Linked DNA regions of Homo sapiens. The protein of the gene in region 1 purifies or fractionates together with the protein of each later gene. This does not show direct contact. Each region holds a gene or a part of one and is shown in the gene's direction. Other genes may lie near its edges. The genes, in order: SNX18, SOS1, SOS2 and TMEM154.

What was found.
Region 2: the proteins of SNX18 (region 1) and SOS1 purify together in Homo sapiens (pull-down; one study listed by IntAct). This does not show direct contact.
Region 3: the proteins of SNX18 (region 1) and SOS2 purify together in Homo sapiens (pull-down; one study listed by IntAct). This does not show direct contact.
Region 4: the proteins of SNX18 (region 1) and TMEM154 purify together in Homo sapiens (co-immunoprecipitation; one large-scale study listed by IntAct). This does not show direct contact.

What each region holds. Positions count from the first base shown.
Region 1 is NC_000005.10:54,519,674-54,527,814, forward strand, and holds part of SNX18 (sorting nexin-18), read left to right. Parts: coding exon of another isoform or gene 1-166; exon of another isoform or gene 167-1,373; intron 1,374-8,141.
Region 2 is NC_000002.12:39,111,781-39,119,921, reverse strand, and holds part of SOS1 (son of sevenless homolog 1), read left to right. Parts: intron 1-8,141.
Region 3 is NC_000014.9:50,156,493-50,164,633, reverse strand, and holds part of SOS2 (son of sevenless homolog 2), read left to right. Parts: intron 1-3,024; coding exon 3,025-3,152; intron 3,153-4,547; coding exon 4,548-5,203; intron 5,204-5,987; coding exon 5,988-6,069; intron 6,070-7,512; coding exon 7,513-7,635; intron 7,636-8,141.
Region 4 is NC_000004.12:152,615,671-152,623,181, reverse strand, and holds the end of TMEM154 (transmembrane protein 154 precursor), read left to right. Parts: 3' UTR 1-4,554; downstream 4,555-7,511.

The sequences.
Region 1 (8,141 bases):
TACAGGTGAGGAAGCGAGCAGAGACGTGGACGCCTGGGTCTTTTCCCTAGAGTGTAAGTTGGATTGCTCGACAGGCAGCTTCCTCCTCGAGTATCTTGCATTAGGGAATGAGTACTCTTTCTCGAAGGTTCAAAGAGTACCTTTGATGACAGTGCTATCATTTTAGAGTTTGAATAGTTGAGTAATGAGCTGCTCAAATCTGTAATCTTGAGACGAGGGTAGAATTAGAAGGGGACCTAAACCATGTTAGGTATCTGTTTGAACACTGCACTGTCACTTAGTGGTGAGTTTCAAAAAGTGAGGAAATAATGGAGAAGAACGGATGTCTGTAAATAGAAATCTGCTTTCACCCTTCCACACCTCTCAATCTCTGCTTTGGTAGAGGAATTAAGATCAATTCTCTGAGTTTAAGAAATTCCTGCAAAGAATTCTTGCCTGCAACCTTTACGAAGTGAAGTAATTTCAGGAAAAGCGTACTCATTTTGAGTTTGAAATCTATTAATGTACTGAAATTGAGAACGTTGTTTAGGAAAATTGTTTAGGGAAACTACATAGAATGAATATAATCTGAGTATTGGATCTGAGAGCAGCGTTGCTGGTATCCCAGTGAGTTAGCTGTCCAACTATCAGAGTTCATGAGTTATTAATAGTTGTTAGTGTCTCTGACCTTTGCTAAAGCACCAGAATTTGCAAATTAAAAAAATATATAGCAGTAGTGCTTGTCTTAACATTTCTTACTAATGTGCATTCTCATATAATGCCTTGATTGAGAGAATGGGGAGGTGTGGGAGTTAGGGAGGCAGTCTTGCCTGTGAAAGTCCAGTGTAGGGGCGGCTGGGCAGGGAAACCTACTCCTGAGCAGGGAAACCTACTGTCCCTGTTTCCTCAGCGGGTCTGGCCTTTACTGGTGAAGTGCTCACTGCCTTTCTGGTGGGCCAGTCCGTTTATGAGCAACCCTGATCTCTGGCATGTCTTTTCTTGTATTGAACTGAAGTTTGCCTCCCTTGATTGTCTTTCTGTTCCCTGGGACCGCCTTCAGACATTTGGAGACAGCAGTCTCGCTTCCTTCCTCTCTGCTTCTCTCCTTCCCCTTCCAAATGCGTGACTGGTCTTCTGACTCCTATGGGGGAAGGGGCTTGCTGGGAGAATGATCAAACGTTTTCAGTCTTGTTGCTGCCGCTGAAAGGGAGTACCCTGGACATCAGTACTAATTTTAGTAGACAGTAGTAACTTTCTTGGCAATTTGCGATTTGTAAATGCAGTCTAATATTGAATTCGTTTTTTGTGCAATCATATTGCTGTTGGCCTGTATTAAACCTGTATTTACATTACCTATGCCTTTTTTTAAAACATAAATTGTTATGAATCTTTGACTTTTTTGACTGGTGTTGGTGGAACTGCCTTTGTGAGCCTTTAATGGAGGGATTTAGCATTTAAATTCCATTGTGTTACATCATTCTGGACCTATGCTGGCTGCCCTTTTACACATTTCTGTGAGTTTGTGCAAATTACTGGTGAACAGTTGAAAGGATGGAACCAAGTACAGACACTTGGACATGTGTGCTGGGCCGCTGGTGTCTGTCTACTTTAGGTTGGCATCAGTTCATTCACTGTCAATCACACCATGCACTCAGGCTTTGTCAAATGGCCTGCTTTTGAAATTATATATTAGAAAAGGTATGGTGTGTGTTCTAATATCTATTTTGAGTTTACAGCAATGGTCTACTTAGTCTATTAAACCATCTGGTTATGGCCAGGGTCACGCCTGTAATCCCAGCATTTTGGGAGGTCGAGGCAGGAGGATTGCCTTAAGGCCAGGAGTTCGAGACCAGCCTGGGCAACATAGGGAGACTCCCTTGTCTACAAAAAATAAAGAAGTTAGCGTGGCATGGTGGCTCATACCTATAGTCCTAGCTACTAGGGAGGCTGAGGCTGGAGGATTGCTTGAGGCTAGGAGTTAATTTGAGGTTGCAGTGAGGCATAATTGAACCATTGCCCTCCAGCTTGGGTGACAGAGCAAGACCCTGTGTCCAAAACAAAAAATATATAGCTTATTTACTTCTTTATTTATTTTGTAGAGACAGGTGTCTTGCTATGTTGCCCAGGCTTGTCTCTAACTCTTGGGCTCAAGCAATCCTTCCAGCTCAGCCTCCCGAAGTGCTGGGATTACAAGCGTGAACCACCATGCCCGGCCTAGTTTATCTTTTTTAAATTATAGAACTGGATTTGTCTCTAGTCACTTGGGATTTGAAAAACTTCCTTCATTAAAACCAGTATCATTTTATGTGGCTTAACAGATTCAAGAGCACTAAACATAATCTCTAGGAACTTTGGAAAGAACAGCAGTTGATATTCAGTATAGTTTGTTTCTGCTGTAACCTTGGTGTGTAATGTACAGTGAACCTGTGTCCCTGGATGACACATCTTTAGAAAATACTACCATTTAAAGTGACAGTGTGCGATACATAAGGCTAAAAGCATTTGCCTATAACCAGTGTTTATCAAGGATGCTAGTGTAGGCCATTTTTAGGAGTATAGATGAGACAAACATCATAAGCCAGGATAAAAGCTTTCTGAGCGTATTCAGGACTTGTGGTTGTAAAGAGCATCTCAATTCCGTCACCTCCCCAACCCCAACTGTTACACACTTGAAATATGGCTAATGTGACTAAGGAACTGAATATTGGTCAACAGAAATGATAGAACTTTTCCATCAGTGCTGAAAGTTCTATTGGACAGTGCTGTGTTAAACTGCTGGCTGCAGTTTAACTATCAACCCCATCGTAAGTTTCTCCAGCAAATTATTATATTTTAATATAGTTTCCTGATAGCTTTATTTTTACTTGGTCATCTCATTGCACCTCCTCCTTCCCATATAGGCTTAATTAATAAAAACTGGGAAGGGGGAAGCAAGTCCTGCTAGATTCTTCTTTGCTGAATTTCCCAAGCACTCAACCTGAGTGACATTTCAGTAGCGTGAGCATCTCTTGCAGTGTGCCTTTATGTCCCATTCAGAAAACACATTGGTTACGGGATGGATGTCTGAGGCCATCCTGGTGAGAACCCAGCTGCAAAATGAGGGTGGAAAACTCAAATACTCTTAAATGTTGGTGGGCTGAAATTTTCCTGACTATACTAAATACTGAACCCATTCTTTAAACTAATAATGGTTTTAGTGTACATACTTTCTGCAGAAGTGAAGAAAGCGATATACTTCCTTCAGCCAAAAGAGAATTCTGGAATTTTGATTTTTTTTCATCAACGGATGGAGTCTAACTATTTAGGTTAATGGAGTTGAGCGAAGAAAGACGGTAGTTTGCTGTAGTCTGCGGTACATTAGATGGGAATTCAGAATCTATTGGAATTTTATTTGTGTTTTGCTTTGACCTAATAGGAGTCCTTTAAGTTCTTTGTTCATAGGTAGCTCATCAATCCCTGACTAGGCAGTGTGCAGATGTTTGTCACTGACATGTAACCCCTGTGGTCTTGATTTTTTTTTTCTTAAGTGATAGCATTTTATCTTCTCCCTCCTTATCATGCCTGTCTGCAGTATACCTTTATAGTGTTGATGTTGAGGAGTTTGGGTAGTACTGAGGAATATATTTTATTATTAGTTTCTTGGCATATTCAGTTTTGTTTCCAAAGATATGATCAATCTCTAATATTTAATAAAGCTAAATCTAGGTGGCAGCAAGTTGAGGTTTAAAAGATTTAGGTTTACCTCTTGCGACTATTGCTAAAAGGAAGACTGTAAAAGATTATGAGAAATACTGGTTTCATCCTTGTTTAGGAATTTGGACTAAATAAAAATGGCTAGAGGGAGTTCCTTTAAGTGAAATGTCTTTCTTCTAGAGAAAAGGTGTAAAATAGTGTTAAATTGATTTGTCGATTTGGGCTGTGTGAAGCAGGGAGGCAGGACTAGATAAGTAAATAGGCAGTCCTGTTTTCTGTACTCTTAAATATACAGACTCTACTTCATCGCTCTCTAAATGTTCCAGATGGAGCCTTTTTTCAATAAAAGCCCCAGGACCTCAGGAATGGTATACCAGTAGTGGGCCTGTCAGTCTTGCTGGGTAGAATTTCACCATTGTGCTTCCTTTTACCACTAGTAGAGTTGGCCTGATGTCCTTCAGACATTAATTAAAGATAGCTGGAGTCCCAGCAGGGCACACAAGGTAAGGCTGGGCCACACGGAGACCCTTCCCTGTCTGCTCCCCATTCTCCTGTAGCTAAAAATAGCCCTGAAAGGGTGGTGCCAGGAATACAGAGAAAAGCTCTAAGAAGTTGGGGCTGTTTGCAAATTCATCCTTATTTTTGAAACCTCTGGGCTAGAAATTGAGGCTGTTCATTCTTTTTGTTTTCACTCCATCTTTAGTTGAACCCATTTCTCCTCTCCCCTGCATTTACCCCCAGCTGTTCTCTAAAAAGACCTCATGTCTCTAAAAAGAGAACAGGTCTGGGGCTTACCCTTTGCCCCAGTTTGTGTTTTCTTAGTGAAAATAAGGTGACCGTTGGTGCTTTCGAAATACACGACTCAGTTCCTTGGTTAAAATATAAATGTGACTGCCCAAGGACAGTCTTGGGCACGAAACTGGGTGTGGGCACCGCTCATACCACACCGTCAGGGGTTTCTCAGACTTCTTTTTTGAGCCACATAGCCTTCAGAGTCATGCCGACCACAGTGGGACCGAAGGGAGGCAGAGGACCTGCACTCCCACCCTCCTCCCAGTAACTCAGGGAGCCTATGAGGTTTCCTTGTTCAGCAATGTTGTCCTGTCTGGCCATCTTAGGACTTCTAAGCATAATGCCAGAACCCAAACAAGTGAGAAGTTCTGTGATTCACTTACAAACACTTCCCTTGAACTATTTAATATGTTCCTTCTCTTTGGGCTGAATAAAAAACTATTATTGTATTACCCCATGTATTTTTAAATCAAAGTTTAAATATCAAGTTAGATTTAATTTGCCATATATTTTTGAAGCTCTGTATCATTAACTAAAGGATTATAAAGTGGCAGAGTAATGCTGAGCTCTGTTTGACAAGATTATATCCGGAAGGCAGACGTGTATCATGTCTCATATTTATACAACACAGACTAGAATCTGGCCGCTCTGCCGGTGTCTGCAGGAGGGCTGGGTAGGCCTCTGGTCTTAAGTGAGTTATTTGACTAGCTACAGAGACAGGTCAGCCAGCCTCGGCAGTTCCTTGTGCCAGGATTCTGAGAGCCTGGTGGATGGGCCAGTCTGCCCCAGGAGTTGCACCAAGGGGTGGGACTGAGCTGGGTCTGCTGAGGAAGCTGTGCCAGTGAAGGGGCAGCATGCCAAGCCAAGAAGCCGTGGGTGCAGAGCCTCATCGCAGTGGGAGCTGGCCTGTCGGGACCAGCATGGGCTCTGGAGGGCCAGTGTGTGGGCATGGAGGAGTTTTGGACAAGCTATTTTAACCTGCGTAACGCTCACTTATCTTTGGCCAAGTGGGGGCACTTCCTCACGAGGTCAGCATGAGAATTAAATGTTATAGTTCATAGTAGCTAGTCACTAAATGTTTATTTTTGAAAAATAGATGGGTGAATTTAAAAGGAGATGACAACCAGGCATGGTGGCACATGGCTTTAATACCAGCTACTTGAGAGGCTGAGGGAGGAGAATCACTTGAGCCCAAGAGTTCAAATCCAGCCAGAGCAACACAGTGAGACCTTGTCTCTTTAAAAAAAAAAAAAAAATTAAGGGCGCTCTCCTTTGAAGGACAATTCCAGTAATCTTATCATCCCTCCTGGCAACCTATTGCCACCAGAATTGTAGGCAAAAGTACAAAAGCTCAAGGAGTCTTCAGTCTAGCAATTAAATATCTGCTTTAATCAGTTCGCCCTGTATTGCACACCGGAAGTAATGGCAACTGGGATAAATGTAGATGTTGTTTGGAGTCAATCGTTTGTTGTTGTTCACATTGAAGAGTGTATGTAAACTGTCTCCTCCTGGCTCCCCTCTAACCCAAATCACGTGTTCTGGTGCAGATCACTTAATGTTTCTGAGCTTCAGTTTCCTCATCTGTAAAAGTGAGGTTCATTATTTCCTAGGTACTATTTTGTTAGTTGACTTTTTTAAAAAAATAAGAGTAGTCTTAAGTATCCAGGAAACTTTTAGACATTGTTTCAGGCTGATTTTAATAGTGTTCTCTGTCTACTTATGTGACTGTTTTACGGGAGCATGAAAAGCCCTTATCAGTTGATGTGAAAGAACATTTATGCACGTTTAGTTCAGATCAGCAATCACGCATTGCAGGCTTACCTCACTAGGAACTTCGAATGTAAAAGTGATTAATACCTGGCCTGCTGCTGCCTGGTGAGGGTTCCCGGGTGTTCTGAAGCTGTGGTATGGTAGACAGCTGGAGCGACTTCTCTCTGACCCAAATTAATAGGACTACCAAAGAGATAAATTATGACAGTTTTTTAAAGATGGAGTCTTGCTCTGTCACCTAGGCTGCAGTGCAGTGATGCGATCTCGGCTCACTGCAACCTCTGCCTCGCGAGTTCAAATGATTCTCCTGCCTCAGCCGCCCGAGTAACTGGGATTACAGGCATGTGCCACCATGCTTGGCTAACTTTTTTATTTTTTTTAGTAGAGACGGGGTTTCACTATATTGGCCAGGCTGGTCTTGAACTCCTGACCTCAAGCAATCTACCCACCTTGGCCTTCCAAAGTGCTGGGATTACAGGTGTGAGCCACCGTGCCCAGCCTCTGATATTGATCTTATAGCTTGATTAAACTTTAATTTGAATGAGTTTTAGTTCACTTGTCATTTCTGTACCTTTTCTTATGACTTATCTGTCACTGTGATTTGACTTTCCTCTTCTGCTAAATAAATTGTTATTTAGCAGGTAAGGGGACAGTGAAGGAAGGGGAGATAAAATCATTAGATTTATTCATAGGACCCTCTAAAAGATAAACTAGATTTTATTCAACAAATACGTATGTACCCATCATCGTCCAGGCACTATTCAAGATGCTAGTGTTGCATCAGTGGCCAAAACAAAGATCCCCACCCTTGTGGAGCTTGCAGTCTAGCAGGGTGGAGACACTCAATGAAAAACAAACACAGGAGGTAAGTTTTGATGTATGTTGGAGTTTGGTATGTGCTAGGAGAAAACAGTAGAGCAGGGAAAGAGGGCATGGGAGGCAGGATGAAGTACTAGTAAGAGTGCTCAAAGTAGGTCTCATTGAGAAAGTGAGATTTAAGCAGAGACCTGAATCACTCTGGAGTCAGGAGAGTCGTCCAAGCAGGTATCTCGGGGGAGAGCTTTTCAGGCAGAGGGTTTAGCTAAAGTAAGGCCCTGGGGTGGACATGTGCCAGGCAGGTTGAGGAACAGCAAGGCCAGGTGGTTGAAGTTAAGAGGATCCTAGGAGATGAGGTCATGGAAAGTCAGATTTGCAAGGCTTTGCAGGTCACTGTTAGGACTTGGAATGAAAGCCCGAGTCAGATGGAAGCAATTACAGGATTTTGAGCCAAGGTATGACATCCAACTGGACATATTAACAGACTTAGTCCAGAGCAATGAGAATAGAATGGCGTGTGGCAGTCAAAGGTGGATGGAAGCAGGGAGCTAGTAGGAAATACTCCAGTAATCCAGGTGAGAGATGCTGGTGGCCTGGACCAGAGTGGAGACAACAGAGGTGGTGGTCGGGGAGCCGGGGGGGGGGGTCCCCCTCCAGCTATATTTTGGAGGTAGAATCAACAGGTTTTCCTGAGAGATGGGATTGTGAAGGATGTGACATGCAAGAGAAAGGGGAGTCATCAAGGGTGACTGTAATTTTGGCCTGTTTGGCCTGGCCTACAATAAGAATTGTCAGAACAGGGGTGGGGAGCAGCAATCAGGAATTGAGTTTTCTCCTTTTAGGTAGATCAGGCTCATGCATTCTGCTCCATGTCTCCCCACCCCAACACAAGCACTTTCTAGCTTCAGGTCTAGTCCCCTTCCTTGGAGTATCCCCCTTGGATTGTAGTCCTTTTGTGAATAATTGTCTGTGCGGTGCTCAGTTATTAGTGTGTGGGTTATGTTTTTATGTTCCTGTGTTGTATAGCTGTTAACTACTGTTTTATACATGCATAGCAAGTACTTAATGAATGCTTGCTGAATTAATGAAGT
Region 2 (8,141 bases), on another chromosome or scaffold:
TGGCCGTAAGGCTTGCTCAAAGGAATTGCGAGCTCGCCTGCCAGTAGGAACGTGGCCTGCTCTGCTCGCCGTCAGTATTCACTCCTCATTCTCCTGGTTTCCCCCGCTCCTCCGATTAACAGGGGCTGGTGCACATGCTACCAATTTCAGGGGGGTTTTGTTTTGTTTTTGCAGCGTTCGAGATTCTTGGTGCTGTCATTTGGCTTGTTAAGAATTTTTAGCCTTTGTATGTTTAAGTTTGCTACATTGTTACCTGAAGTTACATACCCCCGATCTGTGCTTTTAAATGTTTTAGTATAATTAGGAAGTGTTCTTACGTTTTTAAAGCTTCTAAAGCAGCAGTGTGACAACCAGACTATTTTTGTTTTCTTTTCTTCATTTACCTTTTCTGTAAAGATTGCTTTACTCTTCTAATAGTGTTTCTAAATCCCAGTTTCTTGCTGCTCAAAGAATGTTTCATGCTAACTGCTTCTACTAAGAATGGAGATTATGTTTTACCTTTTATGCTAAACATTAAAAGGTGTCTGATATTTCTCAAAGGCCAGTAACTTTTACTTTCCCTTTTGCCCTGTTCTCCTCCGGTCCCTCTTGCTGTCTTACAGTGGAAACTATTTGGTTTTTCAGGAGAATTTGCTCATATATTTCTGGCTTAAATTACGGACATTTTCCCCTTCAAGTGTCTGACTAGTCACAAACATCTATGTAATTTTTTTTAAAAAACAGAAGAAAAGATGCCATATATCTTACATACTTTACTCCTTAGAAATCCCTTCAGGCTCTCACTCCTTACTTTTGCTTTACTTGCAAGTTTGACTTCTTAGCTTGTAATGGAAGGGGTGTAGGAGGTCTCTGTGATGCTAGAAGCTGGTGTCCGGATAGAGTAAGGGGAGACACGGAAATTGTTTAAAAACGTGTAAAGGAACTCATAAAGCATTGCCAAATAGGGGCCATTTTGCTTAGAGGCAAAAGCAGCTCCTTTCCCAGGGGAATCACCAAGGTATCAGCTGAGGATCCTTTGAAGCAGTGGAAAGAATATTGTAGGAGTTGACAGACGTTGTTTAATTCTGCCACACTGGTGGCCCTTGCTGAAATCTGTCCACAAAAGCATTTTGTTTGGCTGGCATAGTGTTGTTTTATTTTTAAATGTAATTAGTTGCTAATATTTGAAAATGGGAGATATTACATAAAACCTGAATTTTCGGCTTTTCTTGAAGAATAGGAAGGTCTTGTCATTTAGGGCCTGTATTCAAGCGAGGCACTAAACTGCTGGAGTTGAGTAAATGGCTCCCTTCTTTAGACAGGTCATGTATCTCCACCTTACCACAGCCCCCACTTGTCCTTTTTGCATATTTACATAAAACAGCTTTTGACTTTAAGTTAGAGATACTTTTGCAGTAGAAGTGATAGGAGGAGGTGGAAGTGTACATAATCTAGCTGATATGTAAGGTTCTTCCAATTCTTATTTAAATAGCCACTAACAATGATTCTAAACAAGATTGAAAATACAGTATGTTTCATATCTGGATATGCTGTTGGTAGCTCAAAACCTACGTTTTTACTTGCCTGCTGGACATTTCATGTGGATATCTCCATATCTTGATTTCTTCCTTTGATTTGTTATTGAATTATTCGTAGATACATCCGACTTGTGTTCTCTTACTCTTACCTGAGGCTCTTTGGATATGCTAGTCCCTTCATCCTTCTTTGCCTGGTCCAACACTACTCATCCTTCTAGACTCACTCAACCTGAACTGTCAAATCATCAGGGCTGAGTTGGATATTACTCCTTTGTTTTCTTTTTGCACCCTGTCCTAGCTCTGTGAATTTTAAGTTCCTATTTACTTGCCTATAACTAGATTGGATGCTCCTTGAGAACAGGGATGATATCTTACCCACATTTTATTCCCCATACTTATAGTGCTTGACATCTGGTAGGCACTCAATTTGAATAAATAGGTGAGGGGATATACAAACTAAAACTATCACTTCTCTCCTCCACCTGTCATTTCAGTTTTTCTTCTCGATTAATGGCTTTATTGTTACATTTGACTGGTTTAAAATGTTGGGGTCATCTCTGGCTTCTTTGTATTACTGTGCACACTCAGGTAGAGCCTGTATGTTCATTTCCCTTTGACATGTTCTTCTAGTCTATTCCTCCTCCGACTTCTCTAATTGAGTCTCCTTTGTCAGACTACTGTGATAACTTCTTAATGGGGTTCACTGGCCCCCACCTCACCTTCTGTTTTTCAAATCTCACCAGTTATAGGACACTTCTGAACATGTCACACTCAGAATTGTTGATGTCTTTTGAGTTCAACCTATGCTAAAGTGCACTTTTTAGCATAGAATTAACAGCAATTGATATTTGGCTTCATCCTGCTTTTCTGACTGGATTGTCTACCATAACCTTTTATCTCCTTTTTGCTTTAGCCAGTCCGGACTGCTACTTTTCCTGAATATGGCTGGAATGTCCCACTGTATCTGTTTCACCGCATCTATGAGTCTAAGTCCTATCTTATCTATTGCACAAATATATCATGCCTACTATAGACCAGGTATTGCCCTTGACACTCAGGCTAAAAAGGTAAATGACAGGGCCGGGCGCAGTGGCTCACGCCTGTAATCCAGCACTTTGGGAGAGCAAGGTGGGCGGATCACGAGGTCAGGAATTCAAGACCAGCCTGGCCAACGTGGTGAAACCCCATCTCTACTAAAAAATACAAAAATTAGCCTGGCGTGGTGGTGGGCACCTGTAATCCCAGCTACTCGGGAGGCTGAGGCAGGAGAATAGCTTGAAACCGGAAGACGGAGGTTGCAGTGGGGCGAGATTGCACCACTGCACTCCAACCTGGGCAACAAGAGCAAAACTCTGTCTCAAAAAAAAAAAAAAAAAGTAAATGACATAATCAGAAAAGACTAAATTAGAACATGATGGGAAGTGGCAGGGCATGTCTGGAGAGACAACTGGTTTATGAACAGTTTTTATATATGTTAAGCTAAGGAATTTAAATTTTTTCTTGGGTAATTAGAAGCCATTGATAAAGTTTCTTTTGTTTGTTTTTGTTTTGTTTGTTTGTTTTGAGACAGAGTCTTAACAGGCTGGAGTGCAGTGGTGCGATCTTGGCTCACTGCAGCCTCCACCTCCTGGGCTTAAGCTATCCTCCCACCTCAGCCTCCTGAGACTGTAGGCACACTGCCACATCCAGATAATTTTTGTATTTTTTGTAGAGATGGGGTTTCACCAGGCTGGTCTTGAACTCCTGGGCTCAAGCCATCTGCCTGCCTCAGCTTCCCAAAGTGCTAGGATTACAGGGTGAGCCACTGTGCCCAGCCAATAAGTTTTAAGTAGGGGAGTAACAGCACATTTTAATTTTAGAAAATTCACTTTGGCCATAGAATGGAAAATGGTTTGGAGAAGAATGAGACGTAAAGTGAGGAGAAAAGTTAGAAGCCTAGTTTAATAGTCCAGTCAAGAGATAATACACATTTGAACTAAGGGTGCATTTGAACAAGGATGGAAATATGGATGTGGATTTTATTTGAAAGAAGTTTACAAGGCAAAATTGACAGGATCTAGTAACTCACTGAGTGATTGGGGGAATGGTAATGGAACAGGAATAGTCTTGTTTCTGACTTGATTGTCTTTAGTCAGGATAGAGAATGTAGGAGAAGCTCTTAGGATGGAGAGAGGAGTGGCATAATAAGATGATTTTTGGAAATGTTGACTTAAAAGTTTGGGTTATTCAAGTGAACTTCTCCAACTGGCTATTGGTTGTTGGTATCTGATTAAGCAGATTTGGAACTTCTAGATGTGTAAGTAAAGCCATAAATATAGATGAAGCCTCTACAAAGACTTATACATGAATGTTCATGGCAGCTGTTTTCAGTCAAAAACTGGAAACAATCCAATGTTCGTCAGCAGGTGAATGAATAAGCAAATTGTGATACAAACAGTGGAATACTATTGGTTGTTGGTATCTGATGAAGCAGATTTGGAACTTCTAGATGTGTAAGTAAAGCCATAAATATAGATGAAGCTTATACAAAGACTTATACATGAATGTTCATGGCATCTCTTTTCAGTCAAAAACTGGAAAAAATCCAATGTTCGTCAACAGGTGAATGAATAAGCAAATTGTGATACAAACAGTGGAATACTACTCAGCAATAAAAAGGAACAAACTGGCTGGGTGTGGTGGCTCACACCTGTAATCCCAGCACTTTAGGAGGCCAAAGTGGGAGGATTACTTGAGCCCAAGAGTTCCAGGCCAGCCTAGGCAACATAATGAAACCCTGTCTCTACAAAAAACTTAAAAAATTAGCCAAAACATTTAAAAAAATTAGCCAGGTGTGGTGGCATGAGCCTGTAGTCCCAGCTGCTTGGGAGGCTGAGGTGGGAGCATTGCTTGAGTCTGAGAGGTCAAGGCTGCAGTGAGGTGTGATTGTGCTATTGCACTCCAGCCTGGGCAAAAAAATGAGACCCTGTCTCAAAAAAAAAAAAAAAAAAAAAAAAAAGAGAGAGAACAAATTTGATACAAATGACAACATGGCTGAATCTCAAAATAATTATACTCAATGAAAGAAGGGAAACCAAAAAAGAGTATATACTATATGAGTCTACTTATAGAACATTCTAGAAGGTGCAAACTAGTGCAGATCAGTGGTTGTTTAGGGAGAGGCTTTTTATGTTTACTTATCTTGATTGTGCTGATGGTTTCAGGGGTGTGTACATATCCTGAAATTTTTCAGATTGTATATTTTAAATATGTGCAGTTTATTGTATGTCAGTTGTACCTCAATGAAGGTATTTTAAAAAGTAGATGAGACCACACGCTGAAAATGATTTTAGTAAGACTGAAAAAGGGCTGGCATAAGAAGTGGGGGAAGGGAGTGGGAAATAGTGTATAGGGAGATAGCAGAGGAAAAGGAATGATGTAAGGAGACCGAGAAGCAAGGAGTCAGGCAGAAGGAATGAAACCCTAGTGTCTGAGAAGTTGAGAGAGGAATGCTTCAAGAAAAGAGTTGGCTGTGTGCGATGGCTCACACCTGTAATCCTAGCATGTTGGGAGGCCAAGGCAGGTGGATCACCTGTGGTCAGGAGTTTGAGACCAGCCTGGCCAACATAGTGAAACCCCTGTCTTTACTAAAAATACAAAAATTAGCCTGACGTGGTGGTGCACGCCTGTAATCCCAGCTACTCGGGAGGCTGAGACACAAGAATCCTGGGAGTTGGAGGCTTCAGTGAGCTGAGATCACACCACTGTACTCCAGCCTGGGTGACAGAGCTAGACTCTGTTTCAAAAAGAAACAAAAACAAATCAGCCGGGCCAGGTGGCTCACGCCTGTAATCCCAGCACTTTGAGAGGCTGAGGCGGGGGATCACCTGAGGTCAGGAGTTCGATACCAGCCTAACCAACATGGAGAAACCCCATCTCTACTAAAAATACAAAATTAGCTGGGCGTGGTGGCGCATGCCTGTAATCCTAGCTACTCAGGAGGCTGAGGCAGGAGAATTGCTTGAACCCAGGAGGCAGAGGTTATGGTGAGCTGAGATTGTGCCATTGCACTCCAGCTTGGGCAACAAGAGTGAAACTCCATCTCAGAAAAAAAGAAAAAAAAAAAAGAAAAGAACAAAAAGAAAAACAAAAAACAAAAAAAATTAGCCAGGCTTGGTGGCACGCACCTGTGGTCCTGGCTACTCAGGAGGCTGAGGTGGGAGGATTGCCTGAGCCTGGGATGTTGAGGCTGAGGTGAGCCATGATCGTGCCATTGCACTGCCGTCTGGGTGACAGGGTAAAACCCTGTCTCAGAAAAAGAAAGAAACAAAAATAGAAAGAAAAGAAAGAGTCATTGATCATACCAGGCTATAGAAAAGTCAAAGGGCCTGAAAAGTGTTAAGTTTGGCAGCTAAGGGGTCATTGGTCACTATGTCAGAGCAGTTTTATTGTGATAGTAGAAGATGGAAGAACATGGGAAAAGTAAGAATAGCAAGGGCTGCTGACCTTTTTGCTCAGATTATTTTTTTCTAGAAGCTTGGAAAGGAAGGGAAAAGAGATAGTGCTGAGGCAAAAAAGAGATTCAAGATTGGGTAAGACATTTTTGCTTCTTGCTTGGAGATGACAAAAACTTACTAAGAGCCTTTGAGGAAGGAGCTAATAGAGAATGCTGGTGAAGATTCAGGAACACAAAGCAATGGGATTTGCCTTGAACTGTTTGGGAGATAAGGTAAGCACTTCACCTGTGTTCTCATTTAATTCTCATAGGATACTATTACGGCTTCCTTTTTACAGGAGAGAAAATCAAGGTTTGGAAAGTTAAATTTGCCCATGTAATTTAGTTACAGAATCTTTATTTTTATTTTTAAAATTATTTTATTTATTTATTTTTGCACCATGGCCTCCCTCCCCCAACTCTAAAATCTGTATTTTTAAACACTATATTGCTGGGCATGGTGGCTCATGCTATTGACGCCAACACTTTGGGAGGCCAAGGCAGGAGGAGTTTGAGAACAGCCTAGGCCACATAGTGAGACCCTGTCTCTACAAGGGAAAAAAAAAAAAAAAAGAAGACAGGTATGGTGGTACATGCCTGTAGTCTCAGCTACTCAGGAGGCTGAAGTGGGAAGATTGCTTGAGCTCAGGTGTTTGAGGCTGCAGTGAGCTATGATTGGGCTACTGCACTCCAGCCTGGGTTACAGAGTGAGACTGTGTCTCTAAATACATTAATGAATAAAACACTAAGTGATGCTACCTCTGGCAGGGGTGATGACATCTTTTCTTATGAGATACAGGAGGGAAAGTGATAAAGATGGGTTTGTAGGTTGGGGAGCAGGGAGTTCATGCTAAATAATCACTTCTATTTTCTTTTCTTTTCTTTTTTTTTTTTGAGACAGAGTCTTGCTCTTGTCGCCCAGGCTGGAGTGCAGTGGTGTGATCTCCGCTCACTGTAGCCTCCACCTCCCAGGTTCCAGCAACTCTGCCTCAGCCTCCCCAGTAGCTGGGATTACAGGCGCACTCCATCACACGCAGCTAATCTTTTGTGTTTTAGTAGAGACAGGGTTTTACCATGTTGCCCAGGCTGGTCTTGAACTCCTGAGCTCAGGCAGTCTGCCCGCCTCGGCCTACCGAAGTGCTGAGATTACAGGCATGAGTCACTGCACCTGGCCAAATCACCTCCATTTTCATGATGAAATGAAAGGCAAATTTTTTTTACAGAGTGAAGAAAAGGAAAGTAGTAAGGACTTTAGAAGGAATAATGAAGTCTGGGAATTGCTGCTGTGGAGTGTAGAGGAGCCAACCAGTGCCTTAGAAAGGAATTGCAAGCCAGGTGCGGTGGCTCATGCCTGCAATTCCAGCACTTGGGAGCCTGAGGTGAGAGGATCACTTGAAACCAGGAGTTCAAGACCAGCCTGGGCAACATGGTGAAACACCGTCTCTACCAAAAAACAAAACAAAACAAAAGCCTGGCATGGTGGTACGCACCTGTAGTCCCAGCCACTTGGGAGACTGAGGTGGGAGGATCCCTTGAGCTCAGGAGGCTGATGCTGCAGTGAGCCATGGGAAAGAAAGAGCAAGAGAGAGAGGGAGAGAGAGGAATTGCTCAGCAGTGCTGAATGTGGAGACCATAAACTCAGAGTAGGGTTGATCTGGTGGTTGTGAGATTTTCCTCCAATAGCGCTTATCTGTTCAGGTAAGCCGGGAGAGAAGACAGTTGGTTGCAGGTAGCGGCAGTAGAGATTAAGAAGATAGGGATATTTCAAGTGATAGAGAGGAAGTAAGGGTATATAAGAGAAATAATGGATTGGAAGAAAAATTAGGGCTCCATGGATTCAAAATCTTGGTGAGTTAGAAGAGAAGGATAGTGGGAGTAGATAGGGGATGTGATTAGAGATGATGACAATTGTTATATTTTGGAGTTTTAAGATTCCAGAGATAGAGGCCAAGGAGGGCAGATCACTTGAGCTCAGGAGTTCAAGACCAGCCTGGCCAACATGGCAAAACCTCACTTCTACCAAAAATACAAAAATTATCTGGATGTGGTGGTGTGTGCCTGTAGTCCCAGCTGTTCGGGAGGCTGAGGTAGGAGAATCGCTTGAAACCTGGAGGTGGAGGTTGCAGTGAGCTAAGGTTGTGTCACTGCAC
Region 3 (8,141 bases), on another chromosome or scaffold:
TTGGAGACAGAATCTCGCCTTATCACCCAGGCTGGAGTGCAGTGGTGCTATCTTGGCTTACTGCAATCTCCACCTCCTAGGTTCAAGTGATTCTCATGCCTCAGCCTCCTGAGTAGCTGGGATTACAGGCATGCACCACCACGTCCAGCTAATTTTTTTTTGTATTTTTTATTTTTATTTTCATTTTTTTGCGGGGGACAGAGTCTCACTCTGTCACCCAGACTGGAGTGTAATGGCACAATCTCAGCTCACTGTATTCTCTACCTCCCATGCTTAGGTCATCCTCTCACCTCAGCCTCCCAAATAGCTGGGACTACATGTGCACATCACCACGCCCGGCTAATTTTTGTATTTTTTGTAGAGACAAGGTTTCTCCGTGTGGTCAGGCTGGTCTTGAACTCCTGGGCTCAAGTGATCTGCCCGCCTTGGCCTCCCAGTATGTTGGGATTACAAGTGTGAGCCACCTTGCCTGGCCCAGTAATTTCTGTGTAAGATGTTTGGAACACATTCTTTTAAGTATCTGTAGAATATTAGTTGGATATTCATTAATATGATGTTTATCAAATCTCACTGCTGAAAATTCAAGAAATATTTAGCAAATTATCAGATTATTATGCCAAACAGAGCCGTTGTTTAATATACTTCCATTACCAGGAAATCCCACTCTAAATATCCTCAATTTTGTTCTCCTTTACAGCTTATAATTATTACATGGTTATTTAAAAATGACACGTGGAAGAGTTTGAGCAGCCTTAAGACCAAGTAGACAATGAAAATCATACCTTTTTGGTAGGATATCACTACTGGTGATAATTTAGATATTTGGATAAACAAAAACAAGAATAAAACAGTTCTAATTAAGTGTTTGATGTCATCAACATTCATATTTATTAAAGAAATATTTTAGAGTGGAGCTGAGAAGACTTTCTGTAAGAAATCTTTAAAGCAGCAAAATAAGTGATTTTGCCAGTAACTTTCACCTGTAGAAGTCAGAATAACCAAGCACAGATCTTTTTTCAAACTTTCTATGATATTTTGACTTTGCTTCCATCCTTTCTATTGCTTAGTCTAGAGATTAAGGTATTACTTCTAATAATAGTCATTTACATTATTTATGTTGCTAATCTCTTGATGACAAGACCTCTACATGTGTCTTGAAATAAAATCAAATGGCTCTGTGCTTCATATAGAGACTAATTTCTAAGACATAAATAAAAGGTAATGGACAAAGTTGTCAAACAATAGCCAGTTAGTTCTTTGCTGAGGAAAGGGAACCATTGCTGAATGCTTTTGAGATTGCTCTTGGAATATAAGGAAAATTTTAATTTATCACAAAATCTCTAATAAGTTAAAGATCACAAAATAGATTTAAGTTTTTAAAAATTTTCTGAAGTGATCATAATTCCCCATATCCTTGCATAAATATATATTTATAAATACATAATATATATAATATCTATATGATGTTCCACTTTGAACTCTTCTTTCAAAAGATTAAAACAGTTTGAGGGCAGCCTGGGCAGCATAGTGAGACCCCATCTCTACAGAAAAATTAAAAAAAAAAATTAGCCAAGCATGGTGGCACACATCTGTAGTTCTAGCTACTTGGGAGGCTGAGATGGAAGGATCACTTGAGTCCAGGAGGTTGAGGCAAGGCTGCAGTGAGCCATGATCACCTCACCGTATTCCAGTTTGGGTGACAGAGTGAGACCCTGTCTCAAAAAAAAAAAAAAAAATCAAAACATTGGAGCACAATACAATACAATCTGAATTATTTATTATAAGTAAATTTGCTTTCTTTCTGAGAGTGAAATACAAGAGAACATTTTGGGGCAAATGAAATAGAACCAGAGTTTTAGAGATTAATAAGTCAGTTTCTAAATCTTCTAAAGATTGAGATAGAATTAATTTTCATGGTTTCTTGACATTTCATATTGTAAAAAATAGCAGTGGAATCCTTTGAGAGATGCTGTTTACGGAAAAGTTTATGATAGATTGAAGTGTTAAAAGTTAGTACCCTTGATTATGTTATATAACAAAGATTTGTAAACTTGAAATTGCTAAAACAAAGTAATCATTAGAGAATATGAAATAGTTTATAGTTACTTATTTTCTCTATTCATAGTTGCTAATGAATAAAAGTAAGTTGTAAGCTTCATGCTTTAGGTGTTTTAAACTTTTTAAATATGTTTGGAAAATGTGGCCTGGCACAGTGGCTCACACTTGTAATTTCAACACTTTGGGAGGCAGAGATGGGAGGATAGCTTGAGTCCAGGAGTTTGGGACCAGCCTAGTGAGACCCTATCTCTACAAAAAATAAAAATAAAAAAATTAGCTGGATGTGGTGGCATGCAACTGTGGTCCCAGCTACTCGGGAAGCCTTATGCCCAGGAGATCGAGGCTGCAGTTAGCCCTGCCACTGTATTCCACCCTTGGTGACGGAGTGAGTAAGACCCTGTCTCAAAAAAATAAAAAATAAAAATAAAATGTCCGAATGGTTTTTACAGTTGCTTTTTTTTTTCCTGATTACTATGCTCATGTTAGTTTATATCTGTATTGTGTTTATGTTTATAGAAAGAAGGTTGGGCCAGGACTGGTGGCTCATACCTGTAATCCCAGCACTTTGGGAGGCAGAGGCAGAAGGATAGCTTGAGCAGGTGTTCAAGACCAGCCTGGGAGACATAGCGAGACCCTGTCTCTACAGAAATTTTAAAAATTAGCTGGGTGTGGTGGCATTCGCCTGTGGTCTCAGCTACTTGAGAGGCTGAGAGTGGAGGATCATTAGAACCCAGGAGCTCAAGGCCACAGTGAGTGAGATCCTGTTTCAAAAAAAAAAAAAAAAAAGAAAGAAAAAGGGTTGGTTTGAGAGGGCAGTAGGTATATATAAAATTATAGCTGTTTTTATTAAGTATATATAAAATTAACTTAGAGTTGATAATATTTGTTGCTGCTTTTTCTATTACTAGAAAGTTGGGGGAAGAATCAAACAATGCAGTTTTGATTTTTCTTTCTGTTTTTTCTTAGCAATTGAAAGCATGTAGTGAAGAACAAGAAGACAGAGAATGTTTGAACCAAGCTATTACTGCTCTCATGAATCTCCAAGGTAGCATGGACCGAATTTACAAGCAGTATTCACCTAGACGTCGACCTGGGTAATTCCAAAGTGTTGAAAACGTGAATGCCTCTGCTTACTTCGCTGTCTCTGATGCCTGGTTTTCAAAGAAGTGTGATTTATTGTGATAGTTACATTATTGAAAGTTGTGCTTGTCATACTTTTATATACTTTTATGTTGGTCTTTTACTCTCTTTTTTCCTTTTCCTTTCCTTTTTTTTTTTTTGAGAAGGAGTCTCTCTTGCCCAGGCTGGAGTGCAGTGGTGTAATCTCAGCTCACTGCAACCTGCAGCCTTAGCCTCCTGCGTTCCAATGATTCTCCTGCCTTCGCCTCCCAAGTAACTGGAACTACAGGAGCCCACCACCATGCCCAGCTAATTTTTGTATTTTTAGTAGAGACGGGGTTTTACCGCGTCGGCCAGACTGGTCTCAAACTCCTGACCTCAGCCTCCCAAAGTGCTCGGATTACAGGTGTGAGCCGCTGCGCCCAGCCTTTTTTTCTTTTTTTTAAGAGACAGGGTCTCACTCTGTTGCCCAGGCTGGAGTGCAGTGATGTGATCTCAGCTCACAGCAGCCTCAACCTCCTGGGCTCAAGCAGTCCTCCTGCCTCAACCCTCTGGAGTAGCTGGGACTCGAGTAGCTGGGTGGCACATGCCAACACACCTGCCTAATTTTTGTATTTTTTGTTGAAATAGGGTTTTGCTATGTTGCCCAGGCTGGTCTTGAACTCCTGGGCTCAGGTGATCTGCCTGCTTTGGCCTCCCAGAGTGTTGAGATTGCAGGTCTGAGCCACTGCACCTGGCCAACCCAGCCTAGTCTTAAGATTAGCATTGTTGGCTGGGCACGGTGGCTCACGCCTATAATCCCAGCACTTCGGGAGTCCAAGGTGGGCAGATCGCCTGAGGTCAGGAGTTTGAGACCAGCCTGGCCAACATGGTGAAACCCCATCTCTACTAAAAATACAAAAATTAGCCAGGCGTGGTGGCAGGCACCTGTAATCCCAGCTACTCGGGAGGCTGAGGCAGGAGAATCACTTAAACCTGGGAGGGGGAGGTTGCAGTGAGCCAAGATCGTGCCATTGCATTCCAGCCTGGGGGACAAGAGCTCCAAAAAAAAAAAAAAAAAAAAAAAAAAAAAAAAAAGATTAGCATTGTTATATTATTAGGATAGACTTAATAAATGTTTAAAAATATAATCTATGAAAGAAATTTAGGATTTTTTGTAATTTTAGTTCTTATAGAGCCAGTAGTACTTCTCTTTCATAATAATGAAATTGAGGGCTGTATTATTTAGTGGCAAAGTTAGAACTAAATGCTGTGCGTAAAAGCTACTGTTTGGTTATTTAATATTTTACTCACTTGATTTGAGATGGTTTATGCTTGAAACCATTTGGGTTGCTAGCTGTTGAATAAGCTATATTGTTTGTTTTTTCTAGAGATCCTGTTTGCCCTTTTTATAGTCACCAATTAAGAAGCAAACACCTGGCTATCAAAAAAATGAATGAAATTCAGAAAAATATCGATGGATGGGAAGGCAAAGATATTGGACAGTGTTGTAATGAATTCATTATGGAGGGACCATTGACAAGAATCGGTGCCAAACATGAACGGCATATTTTTCTGTTTGATGGCTTAATGATCAGTTGTAAACCTAATCATGGCCAGACTCGGCTTCCAGGTTACAGTAGTGCAGAATACAGGTTAAAAGAAAAATTTGTCATGAGGAAAATACAAATTTGTGATAAAGAAGATACTTGTGAGCACAAGCATGCATTTGAATTAGTATCCAAAGATGAGAACAGCATAATATTTGCTGCTAAGTCTGCTGAAGAAAAAAACAACTGGATGGCAGCCCTTATTTCTCTTCATTATCGTAGTACTCTAGATCGAATGTTAGATTCAGTATTATTGAAAGAAGAAAATGAGCAACCACTGAGATTACCAAGTCCTGAAGTATATCGTTTTGTAGTAAAAGACTCTGAGGAAAACATTGTTTTTGAAGACAACTTGCAAAGTAGAAGTGGCATCCCCATTATTAAAGGAGGAACTGTAGTGAAATTAATTGAAAGGTTAACATATCATATGTATGCAGGTATGTGAAACTCATTACAACTGCTGACCTAGGGCCTGGGACCCAAAAGCTTTTTAAGGATGCTCAAAAATATTTGAGGCTTGGGGAAAAAATGGATTGCCTCCAAAATATAAAAATACTGCAAAAACAAAAGGAATAAATAAGAGAAGGAATTAAAGGTCTAAAAATGTAATATTGTTAACTTCATTAATTATTGAATAAATATTCATAAAATATGCATATTCATGAATTTTTTTTTTTTGAGACAGAGTCTTGCTCTGTTGCCCAGGCTGGAGTGCAGTGGCGCTATCTCTGCTCACTGCAAGCTCCACCTCCTGGGTTCACGCCATTCTCCTGCCTCAGCCTCCCGAGTAGCTGGGACTATAGGCGCCCGCAACAATGCCCGGCTAATTTTTTTTTTCTTTATTTTTAGTAGAGATGGGGTTTCACCGTGTTAGCCAGGATGGTTTCGATCTCCTGACCTCGTGATCCGCCCACCTCGGCCTCCCAAAGTGCTGAGATTATAGGCGTGAGCCACCTCACCCAGCCATATTCATGAATTTCAAATTTGAAAACAATCCTCGCTTATTAAGGATATACCATAGTATATTCTCTATGTCAGTATTTCTCTATGTATGGCAGGGATACCATGGTATCCTGCCAGTACCATGATTGTTAGGAAAAGCCACAATCTGAGGAGCCAAAGTAAAAAGAAAAAGGGAGGAAGGCCTCCAAATATGGTACTTTGAGTTAATTAAACTGAATACATTAAACATGAAACCTATTTTATGCTCTGCCTTTTCAGATCCCAATTTTGTTCGTACTTTTCTTACCACATATCGTTCATTTTGTAAACCACAGGAATTGCTGAGCTTACTGATTGAACGGTAAGAAAAATATGTATTTCAGTTATATTGACATTTTGTGAAAAATTAACTGTATTTTGTAAAGTGCCTAGTACCTAATAAATACTCAAGTTAATTATTGAACATATTTTATTTGGCATTAAATTGGCAGTATTACTATTCTCTTCAAATGGAGTACTCCCTAAAATCTGTTTATAAACACAGATCTTTTCAGCTCTTAGAAATATTTCAAGTGGTAATCAGAAAGACTAATTTAGAGGATGAAAGCACTATATTTTAATGAATATTGTTCTGTGTAATAAAATGATATTTTCTTAAAAGAGACTTTTCTACTTACCACTATTTTTTTTTTTGGACCGTAGACTACTTTGCCAAATACTTTCCACTTTTAAAACAAACTTGTTATGAAAACTTTCAAAACACATACAAGAGCAGATACAAGAATATAATAAACCCATTTATTCATCAACCACCTTCAGTAATTATCAACTCATTGTTTCATCTGTTTCCCTACAAATTTAAACACCCCACCCCATGATTATTTTGAAGTAGATCCTAGACAACATAATTCATCTATAAATATTTTTCTATGTATCTCTAGAAAATACGGGATCATTTTTAATAATCAGATATCATTATTAAACCTAAAAAATCAGCAATTCCTTTATTATGATTAACTTTTAAAAATTAGTGTTGGGTTGAATTTGTTTTACCTAGTATTATAGTGGCATTTTAAATGTTTTATAGTTTAAAATGTAGAATCTGGACTCCAGAATGATTTTTAGTTTTACGTTTTAAAACTTACTAAAACTTATTATTATACCAAAGCTTATTAACTGTATTATCAAGATATAATTCTAGATCTCTATCACTATGTTGTTTTATCAAACTAAATTTACCAGACTGAGTCAGTGTAATGTGCTATGAGGATCTACTTAGTTGTTTCCATGTCCAGAATAAGGAAAGCACACGTTAGACTTATAGTTTAGCTGTATTTCCTATGTTTGAGCAAGGTTTTTTATCTTTATCTTATCCACTTAGGTAAATTATTTAAATATTGTTAAATATTCGGTTTTGGCCCTCTCTTTGAATTTGTACTCATTTAAATAAATTTATTAGCCTACTTTCATTTTAATAATATAAATATTAAAGACATTGTTAGATAAGCAATTTCTGTCATGTTCTTTAAATTCCTTATGAATTCTTTCCTTGGCTCTTTTCCCTGGACCTTTTCTGTATTATCAGTGCTAAAAGACAAAACTTTAGTTTTTATAAAAGTAAGAATACAAAACGTCAGTTTTGTATAGCCAAAGGACAGTTTTTTGTAGTATATCATACCTCAAGGGAAGTTTAACAGTAATCCACTTTTCGTGGAAGTGGTAGGAAAGAAGGTTGCTTGCTGTTTTCCTCCTTGTATTTTCATTATGTATGAACGGATTTTTCTCCTTTTGCTTTTCTTCTTAGGTTTGAAATTCCAGAGCCAGAACCTACTGACGCAGACAAATTGGCAATAGAGAAAGGCGAGCAGCCAATCAGTGCAGACCTTAAAAGATTTCGCAAGGAATATGTCCAACCAGTACAACTTAGGTTTGGCTTGAATATTTTTTATATATATATATATACACATATATATACACACACACACACATTTTATGTGTCAGTTTTCAATATATAGTTAACACAAAAGCTCTCAGCTTTTAATTCAAATATAGGGAATATTTTTAACTTCACAGCAGTTAAGTTAAACTAAAAGAGTTCTTTCTCAGTGAAGCTATTCTTAAATACCCTGAAGAAATTCAAATATTTAAATATCCTATGTTTGCATCACATATCTCTGGCATGTGATATGTTATGCTTACGTATCAGGATACCTATTTTTTATTGTAAGTAAAAATTATAAAATTTCATGTGAGCTTTCCTGCTGTCAACCTTTTTTCACACTTTTTTCCTTCATTTCCCTTTGCGATCATACAGTAATCCTGGCTTTTTTTACAATTTATAATATTTGTGGAAGTTCTAGCCCTTTTCCCACTTATCTCTCACAAAATATATAGACATTTGTTAGTTTAATTGCAATAATTTCTAAAAATGTG
Region 4 (7,511 bases), on another chromosome or scaffold:
GTCCCAGCAGCATATAAATTCTACCTTGTAAGCCTCATATTAGAAGTGGTCCCAGCCAGGCACAGTGGCTTACTTCCCAACACTTTGGGAGTCCACGGCTGGTGGATTGCCTGAGCTCGGGAGTTTGAGACCAGCCTGGCCAACATGGTGAAACCCCATTTTTACAAAAATGCAAAAATTAGCCAGGTGTGGTAGTACACACCTGTAATCCCACCTACTCGGGGGGCTGAGGCCCAAGAATCACTTGAACCCAGGAGGCGGCAGTTGCAGTGAGCCAAGATTGTGCCACTGCACTGCATCCTGGGTGACAGAGCAAGATTCTGTCTCAAAGAAAAGAAAAAGAAATGGTCCCATTGCTACGGATTAGAACTAATTTGTAAAACTATCAGAATTTTAAGACTGATTAAAGGTTTTAGGTGTTTTTCTCCTACTTTGCATACTGAGAATAATATGTATAGTATTTTTCCAGTATGATTTACAATTTTATAAATGTCAGTATACATATGTATATATAAATTATTCTCAACTCCATTTTTTTTTAAATAAAATAAGTACATGTTTGTGTGCTAAATTGCTCATTTGGCAGTGATAGATTGAAAAACATTTATAAATTTAAAAATAAAGCACTATAAGATATGAGGAATGAATAGCTTCTATGTGAATTTCTATGTAATTAATATCAATATTTAGAATAAAAGTGTATTTGAGGATAAGATATTTGTTTACTAAAATGTTTTATTTACTAAGAGTAGAGGTGAATTATGCATCTTTCTAAGGAAAAGTTCTTTTAATTTCTGTGTCTATGAAAAAGAATTCATAATTCATAATTCTTAATTGCCCTCTTTTGATCCATATAATTCTTTAAATAAACGAAACAATACCAATTCAAAAAGGGGCCTGCTTTGTATAAAATTGTCTAACCTAAAAATTAAGTAGACTTTCTGCATATCTAAAATATATTATTACACATTCTTGTCTTTATTCTTCCTTACAAAACATTTTTAAATGAAGGAATGAAATTTTAATTGTTTATGAGAATATAACTTTTAAAAATATTTCTAGTAGGCCAGGCATGGTGGCTCATGCCTGTAATCCCAGCACTTTGGGAGGCTGAGGCACGTGGATCACCTGAGGTCAGGAGTTCGAGACCAGTCTGACCAATATGGTGAAACCCTGTCTCTACTAAAAATACAAAAATTAGCCAGGCATGGTGGCTGTCGCCTGTAATCCCAGCTATTCGGGAGGCTGAGGCAGGAGAATTGCTTGAACCTGGGAGGCGGGGTTTGCAGTGAGTGCCAAGACTGAGCCACTGCACTGCAGGCTGGGTGACAGAGTGAAACTCCATCTCAAAAAAAAAAAAAATTCTAGTAAAAATGGAAAAATCCACAAGAAAACCTCTTTTTTTCCTGATTACTCACTTTTCTTCATGCCTTTAATTTTAACCTCATCTCACACCTTGATATTAGAAGAAAGTAAGGCTGAAAGGCAGATTCATAAGTTGTAGATAACATGAAGACTTCCTTGAATAAGGATTTATTCTTTCGGCTCACAAAGACCAGTCAGTATTATTGACAAACAACAGGCAGGAAGATTTCTCCTAAAAGTCTCAACTAAAGTTAAACCTGGTCCATTATGGCATCAATCTACCCCTAGAAACTGATGCAGAGTCTATTTCCTCCCTGTTTTAACTAGAACTTAGCCAGACTGGAGACAGCATGGACCCAAAGAGCATGCAGTCCCACAGAGTTAGGGAAAGGATGCATCTTGACCAGCATTCATCATGTGGATCAGTTAGGAATTAAGTTCCTGATTCAAGGTGAGCTCATATGGCCGCTCCCTGGTCATCTAGGACACAAGTTCCTTCTAACTCTTCCCCACCTTCATTAGTACAGGGCTTCTTTCCTGTGTTGCCACATGATCCAAAATGGTGGTTGTAACTCCAGCATGATATTCACAAGAAGGAAAGAGAGGGAACCAGCACAAGGGTGAGCCTCCCAAGTAGGTCAGCCACTTTTAAATAGCTTTCCTGCCAGCCCAGTGAAGCAACTCTGCTTACATCTCATTGGCCAATCTCTGCAAGGCAGCAGGGAACAGTCATCTCTATGGTTGGTACATTATCACTTTCAACAATAAGGGATTCTGTCTCACAAAGTGGTGGAAGAATATTGGGTATCTGAAGAGGTAGCCACCCTGGCCAGAAGGTGCTAAACACTAAACATACATCATCTCATTTTAATCCTAGTAATTACTTATGAGGTAGGTTTAGAGAACTTATACCTTGTTCCATGTCTTTCCAACTCCAAAGCACAAGTTTTTAATCACTGCACTGCACTGCATCCCCAATAACTAGCCGTAGGAAAGTGTTTTAAAAGGCATCACTTGGCGGGGTGCAGTGGCTCACACCTGTAATCCCACCACTTTGGGAGGCCGAGGCAGGCGGATCACCTGAGGTCAGGAGTTTGAGACCAGCCTGGCCAACATGGTGAAACCCCCGTCTCAACTAAAAATACAAAAATTAGCCAGGCATAGTGGCATGTACCTGTAATCCCAGCTACTCAGGAGGCTGAGGCAGGAGAATCACTTGAACCTGGGAGGCGGAGGTTACAGTGAGATGAGATCACACCATTGTACTCCAGCCTTGTCTAAAAAAAAACAACAAAAAAACAAACAAAAAAAAGTTTCAGTCATTGTCAAGGATGCCTTAAGGTGAGCATAGCCTGAGATAAGAAGTAACAGAGGCTGCAGGCTGAGATAAGAAGGAACAGAGGCAGTGAAGGCAGGACCCTAGGCCCAGAAGTAATGGTCTATCATGCTGAGAAAAAAGCCAGGGCTTAGAATAGGGGTGATAAGTAAAAAGCCTAGTTTTAAAATCTAAGTGCTGGTAAAGGTTTGGTCACTAGGTGAAAAAATAAAGTTCCCACTTACTAGAGCTGACATAAACAGCATATGATCCTCTTTAAGGTTGCAGTGGAGAGGCATGTCCAGGGACTCTCAAGTTAGAGACAGGTGTGTTTAGTGCTAGAATTGGAAAGACATTCAAGCAGACTGGCATGTTGCCTCTTCACAGCCATAGTCGTGCTGGCTTGCAGGATACTCCAGCCTAGAATGTATATAGGAGTGTGGAGAACAGCAAAATCAGCATTGCTTGGGATTCAGCCTGAGCTCAAGTGGCCCACCCCTGGAGGCATCCAGTGTTCACACTTCCCAAGAGAGAAAACCTGATTGGATGGGTGTTTCAGCAGTCTATTGCTGCTTAAACACCTCAAAACTTAGCAGCTTAAAACAACAACACTCAATTTATTTTTCACACAAATCTGCAATTTGCATGAGGCTCAGTGCAAATGGTTCAACTCTCTCCCACACGGCATTGGCTGGGCAGTTCAACTGGATCTGGGGGTCCCACTTTCAGATGACTCACATGGCTGGCAAGTTTGTTCTGGCTGTCGGATAGGAGCCCAGCCAAGCCTGTGGTCCAGCGGCCTTGGCTTTTATGATGTGGGCCTCTCCATAGACTCCTTGGGCTTCTTCACAGCATGGCAGCTGAGTTCCAAGAGCAAGTGTCCCAAGAGAGCAAAGTAGAAATGCATAGTATTTTTATAATTTAGACTCAGAAATCACATCACATCACTTCTGCCATACTTTATTGTTTGAGACAGTTACAAAGTCTACCTAGGTTCAAGGTGGAAAGGACATAAACCCCACTTGTCCTTGGAGGCGTGTCAAAGCCACATTATGAGAAGAGCAAGTGGGATAAGGGATTTGTTGCAGGCACCGTTGGAAAATGTGATCTGCCCAAATTGGTGTGTCTTCATGCAATATCGAGGAAATATATTAGGTAGTTTCGTGTCAAGGAACATTGTGGATATTTGACCTCCCTGAATCCCAGTGCCTATGTGCTCTTTGGCTTGGACATAGACCCCTGGTCCAGTAGTCTGTAGTAGGTGGTAGAACTAGTTTTACCAACTACATGAGTCATGAGCCATGGGACTGAATGGGTTGTAGGTGGATCAGACACATAGAAATGTATGACTACTCTCAAAGCATGAGGTTAAAATGGGAGCAGATTAGACTGAGCACCTTGAGGATAGGGATCAGTCTTACTCATCTCTGTATCCTGAAAAGTGCTTGGCGCTACTGCACGCTCCATAATAACAGAAAAACCAATTATTTAATGAGCTAGGAGTTACATATCATCTTTCCTTAAGTACCTAATCAGTCTTTATCATCAGTGAGTGCAGAACTCAAATATGGTATTGTTCATCTTCCATCACCATTTTCTCCCAAGTTTCCTGGTTTAATTGCATTTTCCTCACTTTCCATCTAATGGATCCTGATGTCATTCTTTATCTTTATTTCATATTGTCCTATTGTGTGTATTGTATTGTATTTTTAGCTACATTAAATCCAATATGGAAGGAAGCAGAGAACGATCATAATTGAACTAACAAGCAAGTGGAGGTGGAGAGAAAGTGGCCCCAATTTGGAAGGTGAAGGAAAACTGGGGATGGAGCCTAACTGATCATTAAAATGCTCGAAGCAGCTCTTTCCAACCCAGATCTGAGCTTCTCTTCTTTGCCCTCTGGAGGGTCCACAGAGAAAGGAAATACAAGTTTTATTAAGAAAAAGAGGAAAGCATCTATTTTAGGTGATAATACAAGCACAGAGAAGGATTGTTTCTTCTCTGGGCAGGAAGACAGATTCACAAAATAAGAGGCACTGTAAATCCTTCCTGAGATGTTCCCCAGCACCTCTGAATGTCACTGAGACCAACTAAGCCAGTTAATGGGCTAAGACCCACTTACCTCTTAACTCCATGAAATCCATGCAGAAATACCTCCATCTTGTTACAAGTGCCAATTGATTGCTTTTTACCTGGCATGAAGGTGCCTTTCTGTTCATAACCCACCCTGTCCCATTCCTAAGGGAACCCCATCCTTCCTCTTGGCTTGTACTGTTAGACCCTCTGCCTTCCGGCAACTGAGATGAAGATTCTAAGGAAGCAGCCACATGAACTCACGTCAGGATCAGTGTTCCAGGGGCGTCCAGAGCATGAGCAAGAGAAGCAGGGTGGGAGGATGTGGGTTAAACAGCAAAAACTAAGATTCGTTGTTAAAACCAAAGGGGCAGGGGAGGGGTCAAAATCTGGAATATAAATTAGAGGTGACAGGGAAACAGAGGCAGACTGGAAAGGGGCAGGAATGAGGTGAGGAGAGGCGGTTTCCACAACGGAGCTGAGCTATGCAGTCTGCCTTTATTGGCCGCTGGCTGCACAGTGAACAGGGGTCAGTGTGGCCTGAGAGTGCAAGGCTGGGAAGGACACTAGATAGCCAATACCTTCTTTTTGTCAGCATTGCCCAGTTTCCCTGTTAGGTTAGAAAGCCCAGTTCCAGAGAGACAGTGTGAATCACAGACCCTAAACTTGGACCCACACTCCCACAGCATCAGGGCACACATGCTGACTCCCATAAGAGCCGTGAAAATGCTAGGAGCTAACTGGGTCAACCGCGGGAGGGGGCAGCTCCACCCATACATTTGGCCTTATCCAGAGCCAGTGACATGAGGCCCAACAGTTTTCTTTGCATTAAAAAAAAAAAAAAAAATATATATATATATATATATACACACACACACACACACACACACACACACATACGCATAGTGTTATATATATACTAAATAAATACACTTCTAATTGTCTCTCTGTATGTGTAATAGTGGTGTGTTTGTTTAAACAAGACTCTTGGTTCCAGTGAGAAAATGTCCAACTCAAACTAGTCCAGCCCAAAAGGAAACTTATTGGCTCATGTCATCATGCTTGGAAAGGGCAAGAAGTTGCCAATTCCAGGGACAACCAGAACCAGGTAAAACTGACATGAGTAACAATGAGACCAGGGACTCAAACCCCATCAGGCTTCTCCAGTATTTTGTCTTTCATTCATTCTCTGGGACCAGCTTTCTCTACAGGACTGTAATTATTGCAGCTGGGAGCTCCAGGAGTCTTCTGTCTTTACCACCAGAGTAGAAGGGAAAATCCTTCCCTGGGTCTAATATTTAAAAGCTCCCCCCCAACCACCAGAGGAATTTGATTAGACTATCTGGGTTTTATGCCTAACCCAGTAAAAATGCGTACAGGGATGGAGTGGGCCTGACACTTTTCTCTACTCCTGCAGGTGGGTGAGTGGATGGGTGGGTGGTGGGTGGTTAGGTGGTTGGCAGTGGGGAGGAGATACAGGGGAAAGCAGTTTCTAAAGGGAATCAGAGTGCTAGGAACAGATGCCGGGCACTCGGGAGCAGCCAAATGCAGAGGTATCCACCATGCACATGTTTCTTTCCCTCTGTACTTACTTATCCACATCTAGAGAGTCAGAAGTTGAGAATGAGCCAGGTTCTCTGGATGGTGGCTTTACTAATGCTTTTCATTTCCTTCTTTGTGCATTTTTAATATTTTCCAAATGTTCTACAACACATACATATTGCCTTGTAGTATATGTTTTTTTTAAAAAAAAATAGGGTGAATACGTTTTTATTAACCAAAGAAGAAATATTAAGAACCAAAACAGAAAAATCCTAATTTTAGGTCTAATATTCTTACAGCATAAATGTTGCTTGAAAATCATTTGCAAAACTGAACAAAATATATTGTGGTGTATGTGACCAGCACCGTTTTTTGTAGGAAAGAGAAAGGATCCTGAAAGGGGAGGTAGAAAACCCTCAAAGATTTGCTTCTTGGTATGGAAGGTACAGGTTTTTTCTGCATGCATTCCTTTAATCCAGGCTGAACACTCTGCCCATTTCCCTTTGGAAACTATGGGAGAATCAGGGAACTTTCTGGGCCTCTGTATTCACCTTGTGGCTCAATTCACCAGTTAGGGCAGGAGAGGAGGATGTTAAGGCAGTTGTCAAGACCCTGAGAAGCTAAATGGGAACAAGGCAGAACTGGAAACATTTTTTCTTCCCATAATGCATAATGTCTAATCACTTAGATTCTTTTCATGTTTTTGCTGTAAGGATCATTTAACATGAAAGAATATTTTGAGTAAAGAGCAAAACTAACCTCCATTTTAAATTCCTTTCCTTGTATACTTCTGTAGTTGCTATAATTTCTACAATTAACATATACATATTTCACAGAGTAAAAAAATGTATATTGCAAATAAAATCCAGTTAAATTTTTTAAAAAACCATTTTGAATTCCACCAGCCTAGCAAAGCAATTTTCATTTTGAGGAGTGTGTTGGAGTCTCCACCTATCTCTTTCTAAGAAAGAGAAAGTGAGAAGGGTCTGGAAATGGACCACAGCGTGGAGTTACACAGGATGACTTCCTCCAGCAGCCCAGAGGGAGCATGCAATGGTTTCCTGAAAAGAGAGGGAGCATTTATCAGCTGCAGTGGAAGGGTCAGTGGGAGAGGAAGCTAGTCAGAAATCCTGGACAGAGAAAATACTAGAAGGCTTCCCTCAAGATGCCACTGGGATTCACTTATTCAGGAAACATTTTCCTGAGTGCCTACTAT